2 separate regions of the Homo sapiens genome follow, and region 2 is linked to region 1. Evidence: fine-mapped expression QTL. Tissue or cell type: whole blood. Region 1 holds a variant in brackets; the other region holds the start of a gene. All regions are shown on one strand. Distances are between the middles of the regions.

Region 1 (4,148 bases):
CCTCCTGAGTAGCTGGGACTACAGGCACATGCAACCACACCTGGCTTTTTTTTTGTAGAGCTGGGGTTTCACCATGTTGCCCAGGCCCAAGCCAGTCACAAACTCCTGGGCTGAAGCAACCTGCCCACCTTGGCCTCCCAAGGAAGGTTGTTCTGAGTCTAGAGAGAGCACGTGCAAAGGCCCAGAGGCAAGAGTGGAGGCATGTGACAAACAGAAAGAAGTTCCAGTTGGGCTGGAGTGTACCATGAAGAGGAAGCAGGGGCCAGAAGGGAACTTGAACGGTACGGCTACAGAAAAGAGCCGGGACCAAATCATGCAGGGTTTGTAAACCTCATTAAAAAGTCTGCACTTGATTAGTCACTGAAAGCTTTTTAACCAGGAGGGATGTGATCAGATGTGCACTTTTGTGGGGTTTTTTTGGTTTTTGTTTTTGAGACAGAGTCTCACTCTGTCACCTAGGCTGGAGTGCAGTGGCGTGATCTTGGCTCACTGCAACCTCTGCCTCCTGGGTTCAAGTGATTCTCCCGCCTCAGCCTCCTGAGTAGCTGGGATTACAGGTGCATGCCACTACGCCCGGCTAATTTTTGTATTTTTAGTAGAGATGGGGTTTCCCCATGTTGGCCAGGCTGGTTTCAAACTCCTTACCTCAGGTGATCTGCCCGCCTCGGCCTCCCAAAGTGCTGGGATTACAGGCATGAGCCACCATGTTCAGCCCAGATGTGCACTTTTCAACGATCATTCTGGCTGCAATGTTTTTTTTTTTTTTTTTTTTTTTTTGAGATGGAGTTTTGCTCTGTCACCCAGGCCGGAGTACAGTGGTGTGATCTCGGCTCACCACAACCTCCGCCTCCCAGATTCAAGTGATTCTCCTGCCTCAGCCTCCCAAGTAGATGGAATTACAGCTAATTTTTGTATTTTTAGTAAAGACGGGGTTTCTATCCACTACCACGCCCAGCTAATTTTTGTATTTTTAGTAGAGATGGGGTTTCACCATGTCGGCCAGGCTGGTCTTGAACTCTTGACCTCAGGTGATCCACCTGCCTTGTCCTCCCAAAGTGCTGGGATTACAGGTGTGAGCCACCATGCCCGGCCTCTGGCTGCAATTTGCACAGCAGTGTGACCTTACAGTAGAGTATTCGCCCTTCCTGGGCCTCGGTTTTGTAATTTATAAAGTGAGGATAACCTACTCCCTGCTGGGCTATTGTGAGGTTTCAATTATTATAGATAATACACACACAATGCCTGGAACCACTGATATTAGAGATGTGATGTTGGAAACATAGAAGCCTAGGTAATTCTCCAGGGATGTGTGAAGAGCTAGTGATAAAGCCAGGACTCAACTGACCTCCACAAACCCGTTAGTGTCCTGTCCTGCTAGATTCCTTTAGCATGATAGCAGTGGTGCTATCATGGCTCACTGCAGCCTCAAACTCCTGGTCTCAAGCCATCCTCTGCCTCAGTCTCCCAAGTTGCTAGGACTACAGGCGCATGCTATCATGGCTAGCTGGTAAACTGACCCAAAATTCAGGTTTGAGAGAAAGTACTTCCTAGGATTTCTTCTGACCACACTTATTTGGGAAAAGATGTCTAGGTGTGGAGCTCAGGCTGCCCCCACCCAGGATAAGAAGTTTGTGGCAGGAGGACCACTTGAGTCAGAGTCTAGCCCCATTCCAGAACGGTACAGAGGAAA[G/T]GATACCAATGTGCTCTGACTCACCCCCGCACAGAAATATTGGCTGACTGCGCTGCCTTCAGGATTGCGTCAAACCTCTGAAAACTCTCCTCTATGGAACAATTGATGTTCTTCTTGGTGAAGAGCTCTGAGGCAGCTCCAAAGATGACTACTTCCTTGGCTCCAGCAGCAACCTGCCAACATCCAGGTGAACTCCTTTCAGCACTTTTCTCTTTTTTTGTTTGAGATGGAGTCTTGCTTTGTTGCCCAGGCTGGAGTGCAGTGGCATGATCTCGGCTCACTGCAACCTCCACCTCCTGGGTTCAAGCGATTCTCCTGCCTCAGCCTCCTGAGTAGCTGGGATTACAGGAGCCCACCACCACGCCCGGCTAATTTTTGTATTTTTAGTAGAGACAGCGTTTCACCATGTTGGTCAGGCTGGTTTCGAACTCCTGACCTTGTGATCCACCCACCTCAGCCTCCCAAAGTGCTGAGATTACAGGTGTCAGCCATCATGCCCGGCCAGCACTTTTCTCTTTAAAGAACACTGACACAGAGTAGCAAAAAATTTCTCTTAAGGTAAATTTTATGTTATGTGAATGTTATGGGTTGAATTGTGTCCTCCTAAAAATATATGTTGAAGGATTAAAACCCAGCACCTCAGAATGTGACCTTATTTGGAAACAGCGTCATTGCAGATATCATTAGTTAAGATGAAGCCATACTGGAATAGGGTGGGCCCCTAATCCCATACGACTGGTGACCTTAAAAAAAGATGGCCAGCCGGGCGCAGTGGCTCACGCTTGTAATCACAGCACTTTGGGAGGCCGAGGCGGGCAGATCATGAGGTCAGGAGATCGAGACCATCCTGGCTAACACAGTGAAACCCCATCTCTACTAAAAATACAAAAAATTAGCCGGTCGTGGTGGCACACGCCTGTAGTCCCAGCTACTCGGGAGGCTGAGGTGGGAGAATCACTTGAACCTGGGAGGTGGAGCTTGCAGTGAGCCGAGATCATGCCACTGTACTCCAGCCTGGGCGACAGAGCAAGACTCTGTCTAAAAAAAACAAAAACAAAAGATGGCCAAGTGAAGACACAGAGACACAGAAAAGGTGGCCCTGGGAAAACGGAGGCAAAGACTGGAGAGATGCATCTACAAGCCAGGCAATGCCAAGGACTGCTGGCCACCACCAGACCCCAGCAGAGAGGCATAGGACAGATTCTCCCAGAGGCCTCAGAAGGAACCAATCCTGCTGACACCTTGATTTGGGACTTCTGGCCTCCAGACTGTGAGAGAATAAATTTCTGTTGTTTTTAAGCCACCCAATTTGTAGTGCTTTCTTTTTTTTTTTCTTTTTTCTTTTTTTGAGACAAAGTCTTGCTCTGTCACCCAGGCTGGAATGCAGTGGCATGATCTTGGCTCACTGCAACCTCCGCCTTCCGGGTTCAAGTGATTCTCCTGCCTCAGCCTCCTGAGTAGCTAGGATTACAGGTACCTGCCACCAAGCCTGGCTAATTTTTTGTATTTTTAGTAGAGACGGGGTTTCATCGTGTTAGCCAGGATGGTCTCGATCTCCTGACCTCATGATCCGCCCGCCCTGGTCTCCCAAAGTGCTAGGATTACAGGCGTGAGCCACCGCGCCCGGCCTGTAGTGCTTTCTTACAGTAGCACTAGGAAACAAACACAGTAATTTCTCTTAATTAAAAAAAAAAAAACTTTGATTTTCCCCAAGGAAACCACCACCACTGCCATCACCACCCTGGAAGTCACTCTTGAGAAAAAGCTTTTTTTTTTTTCTTGCTGTGTCACCCAGGCTGGAAGAGTGCAGCGGTATTATCATGGCTCACTGCAGCCTCGAACTCCTAGTCTCAAGCCATCCTGTGCCTCAGTCTCCCGAGTAGCTAGGACTACAGGTGCATGCCATCACAGCCAGCTAATTGATTTTTTTTTTTTTTTTTGTAGAGACAAGGTCTCCTTATGTTGCTCAGGCTGGTCTCAAGCTTCTGGCCTCAAGCTGTTCTCCGGCCTCAGCCTCCCAAAGTGCTGGGATTATAGGTGTGAGCCACTGTGCCCAGCCAAAAAAAGGTTTTTGCCTAAATACAGAACCAACGCCTCCAAAGATGTTCTTGTCTAAAATTGTAAGAAAGTTGGCAGATGCCAGCAACTACTGTTGAAACTCTTGTGGAGAGTTTGGTTACATTTCTCTAAAGAAGTGGATAATCAAAAGAGCTAACATTTATTAAGCAGTTACCTTTTATCTGGCTCTTGCTAAGCAATGTACATGCATCCTATCTTCTGAAATGCTCACAACTTCAGGTACTATCATTTAGCCCTATTTTATAGGCTTGTCAACTTGTCAAGATCACAGAGCAGTGAGTGGCAGGGCCAGGTTTGCCCCAGGGTCTGGCTGACAGACAAGCTATTCAGATGGACATCCCAGGACAGGGGACTGAGGCGCCAAGACAAGGCAGGGACC
Region 2 (4,159 bases), 36 kb before region 1:
GAGACGGGGTTTCACCATGCTGGCCAGGCTGGTCTCAAACTCCTGACCTCAAGTGATCTACCCGCCTCGGCCTCCCAAAGTGTTACAGGTGTGAGCCACCACACCTGGCTGTACCTAGCTCTTAAAGTTCATGTGACAATTAATTGAGATGAACTACATAATGTGCTTAGCACACAGTGCTCAAATAAATCATTAATGAAGGCAACAGGAAAAAGCCAAAATGAGTAGATCTCCGGGGTAAGGCCTGAGTTGGTTCTTCAAAAGGACACTCTTACCAAAGAAAGGCTACCAAGTATATCAGTCAAGTAAACATTTACTGTTTGCCACATTCCAGGTCCCTTACCTGAAACTGTGACCTAAAAGCAGGAATAATTCACGGCACTGAGCTATTTTGAAACAGAACCAAGCTTGCTTATTGCACAAGTAACTAAAATAGGACATCAAAATATTTTTCTTGTTTTTATTTTTTTGAGACAGTCTTGCTCTGACACCCAGGTTGGAGTGCAGTGGTATGATTACAGCTCACTACAGCCTCACCCTCCCAGGCTCAGGAGATCCTTCCACTTCAGCCTCCCAAATAGCTGGGACCACAGGCATGAGCCACCATGCTGGGCTAATATTTTTAATTATTTTTGTAAAGATGGGGTCTCCCTATGTTGCCCAGGCTAGTCTCAAACTCCTGGGCTCAAGTGATCCTCCCACCTTGGCCTCCCAAAAGTGCTGAGATTACAGGCATGAGGCACTGCATGTGGCCCAGAAAATATTTCTGAATGGAACTTGAAAAAATGGATATTTTGGTCTATACTTCACCAGCCCCACTGAGCACTCCAGAGCCAGATGTGAAGGGAAGAGGGTAGCCAGGGTATCCCATAACTCTCTTTCTGTATCCTGTCTTTTCCCCACCAGGGAGTAGGAAAACATTCTATCCTGAAAACAAGATTATTTCACCTCTAAACAGTGACTTTTAATTATTTTGATCTCAACCCACAATATGAAAAACACATCATATTGTGTCTGAATACAAACTCAAAACTGAAACAAAAGTTTCATCAATTGAGACTTGAAATGTGTGATACATTCTGGGTTTTTTTTTTTTTGTATTCTATTTTTTTTTTAAATGTTGATCACAATTCTCTATAAACGGATTTTAAAACCTATTGACAGGCCACAACCAGCTGTTCGAAAAAAAGTACTTTGAAATATCACATGGGGGAGGAAACGCAGAGATCATCTAGTCCAATCCCTTCACTTCACAGGGGGTAAACTGAGTCTCAGAAGATCAAGTCACTTGCCCAAGGCCACGCAGCTAGTAAGTTGCTGTGGTTGGATTTGACCGTAATAACCATCGGCTACTGAATGCCCATCATGTGTCAGCCATTTGCTGAGTTTTTTCTTTTTTTTTCTTTTTGAGACAGAGTCTTGCTCTGTCGCCAGGCTGGAGTGCAGTGGCGCGATGTCGGCTCACTGCAACCTCTGCCTCCCGGGTTCAAGCGATTCTCCTGCTTCAGCCTCCCGAGTAGCTGGGACTACAGGCTCGCGCCACCACGCCTAGCTAATTTTTGTATTTTTAGTAGAGACGGGGTTTCATCATGTTGGCTAGGATGGTCTCGATCTTTTGACCTCGTGATCCGCCCGCCTCGGCCTCCCAAAGTGCTGGGATTACAGGCGTGAGCCACCGCGCCCGGCCTGCTGAGTTCTTTAATTGCATTATTTCATTTAATACTCACTGTGATCCTATGAAACAGATACTATTCTTTCCACCTTACAGACGGGGAAACGGAGTCTCAGAATAGGGGAAATGACTTAAGGTGTCACAATGGCCAGTAGCAGACCCAGGAGTAGTCTTTAGGTCTGGCCGTGCACAAAGCCCCATGCTCTCAAGCTGTAACCCCGCTATCAAGAAAGTGGTTATGCAAGTGGGCCTGTGAGCTCTCAACGTCTAAGCCGTGCGCATGTGAGACAGCGATAAGCTCGCGTTCTCCAGTCTCCAGGGCCTTATCATTCCTCACGCTTTCCTTCATCGGCTCGCAAAGAAACGTGGCGATCAAGGAAGACAGCGAAGGCTCCATCCTCGTCGGGGGAGGATAATTCGAATCTCAGCCTGTGAGTTTACTCAGCACACCTGTTTAATCTCTTGGTCCTTCAGTTTCCACACCTAGGAAGCTGGAACAGCAGCAGCATCCAGCGCCAGGACTGGAGTCATATACGAACTCTGGCACCTGGGAGGCGCGCGTCCTACGTCAGTTCCGCTCGACCCCACCCCCCCCGCCCCCCCGCCTTCTCCCCACGCGCATGCGCCGCGCAGCGGCGCTTTTTACGACGCGGCAGGCGCGGCGCGCTTAGTTGCCGGAGCTGAACGGCGCGGAGCTGGTCTGAGGCGAGCCGAGCCGAGCGAGCGCGGCGGTGGGGCCGAGAGGACGCGCAGGTGGCGGCGTTGCCATGTCGCACGGTCACAGCCACGGCGGGGGTGGCTGCCGCTGCGCCGCCGAACGGGAGGAGCCGCCCGAGCAGCGCGGCCTGGCCTACGGCCTGTACCTGCGCATCGACCTGGAGCGGCTGCAATGCCTTAACGAGAGCCGCGAGGGCAGCGGCCGCGGCGTCTTCAAGCCGTGGGAGGAGCGGACCGACCGCTCCAAGGTGGGCCGCCTGGGGCTTGGGGCGGGCGGGGCAGGGTGCGTGTGGGGCCTCGGGCCGTCGGTCTACTCATTTCTGATGTTAAGAATAACGACAGCCTGGTTGCCAAGCGCTTTTCCGTGCCTGTCTCCTGCCAGCTCTTTGGGAGGCGAGCAGCGTTGTCTCCCCATTTTGCATATAGGGAAACTGAGGCCTAGAGGGAACGGGGACAGTTTTGTCAAGCTACACAGCCTAACGCTCTATTCCAGGGCTGTGTGGGCTAGAGAGGATGGTCGTGAGGGCCGTTGGACCATTGGTGCTAATGGCTGCCTCATCATATTACCTGGTGAAGATGAGCCTAGGGAGATGAAAGGTGGTTCCCATATAGAGCAAATGTTCTTTACATTGTGGGGTCGCAGGCCCCTTTGCTATCTGTTTGAAAGCAGTGGACCTTCTTCTCAGAAAAATGCACATAAACACCTGCCTTTCAGTTCACACTTCAGAAGGCTCTTCGACCCTGGAAATTCATTCATGGGCTTTTTGTTAAGAACCTTCCAGTTGGGTGGCCTGTGGCTGTTATGACACTGGATAAGACTGGTTAGCTTCAAGTTAATAAGTCTTGGAAAACCAAGGGAGAGTGACTCTTCCCATTGCACCCCAGTTGTAGAGCAGGGTGGGAGATGCCTGAAATTGTAGGCTCTCAGCAAATATTTGTTGCTTTCTCCTCCCCCCTCCCCATCCCCTCCAGTTTGTTGAAAGTGATGCAGATGAAGAGCTTCTGTTTAATATTCCGTAAGTATCTCCTTGGTGCCTACCTCAGGCTAAATAGGCTGTACCCAGTTGCCTCAGATGGATTCATTCACTGGTGTCAAGAGCACACATTTGCTTCTAGAAATGGGATAAATTACTTTGGTGGGTTTGAGGAGGAAAGCATCATAGCTTTCTTGGTGCAGACTGGAAACAGATGTATTTGTAGAACAATAACTGAGAAATTGAGGTAGATTTCTTAGAATTGTAGAATGCTAGAGGTAGACAGGATCTTAGAAATTATCTAGTACAAGTTGACAGATGAGTAAACTGAAGCCCATACAGGGGAAGGGTCTTGCCCAGGGTCACACAACTAAACAGGTATTCAAACTCAGGTTTGACAACCTTCTCTTTTGCATTCTGGCAGATTTACGGGCAATGTCAAGCTCAAAGGCATCATTATAATGGGAGAGGATGATGACTCACACCCCTCTGAGATGAGACTGTAAGTGGCAAAGGCTTAGGCCCTCAAAGGAGCTCCTAATTCTCTTTTTCTGGTAACATTTTATTCCAGAATAGTATCATTTTCTTCTTACCGGGTTTAATATTTCCCCTTTTAAAATATCTTGGTCCTGTTCTCATTCTGCATTGGAATACATATATTTCTTCCTGAATTAATGACTTTTTTAGATTAAGCATCTTTAGGCCCAACAGCGTGTCTCATATTTCAAAGTGCTTACTATGACATGATTCATTCAGAGAGCATTGTGTAAATGTCACTTGTTGATGACTCTGCAGT

What was found. PIP is the estimated chance that this variant, and not a neighbour inherited with it, causes the effect.
Region 2: it holds the start of ELOA-AS1, and the variant in region 1 is fine-mapped to the expression of ELOA-AS1 in whole blood (TOPMed, PIP above 0.99).

Annotation. Positions count from the first base shown.
Region 1 is chr1:23,812,476-23,816,623 of GRCh38, forward strand. HMGCL (3-hydroxy-3-methylglutaryl-CoA lyase) reads right to left here. Exons shown (of 9, transcript NM_000191.3): 5 at 1,715-1,863. Among named protein-coding and RNA genes, the nearest start is that of HMGCL, 11 kb to the right of the region's middle. The variant G/T (reference allele first, on the strand shown) is at 1,691.
Region 2 is chr1:23,776,077-23,780,235 of GRCh38, forward strand. ELOA-AS1 (ELOA antisense RNA 1) reads right to left here and starts at 2,221. Exons shown (of 4, transcript NR_038280.1): 1 at 2,123-2,221. It overlaps PITHD1 (PITH domain containing 1), which reads left to right and starts at 2,342. Exons shown (of 6, transcript NM_020362.5): 1 at 2,342-2,637; 2 at 3,362-3,405; 3 at 3,788-3,865. The coding sequence starts at 2,440. RefSeq lists enhancers at 1,066-2,018, 3,272-4,159 and silencers at 2,272-2,581, 2,672-2,721.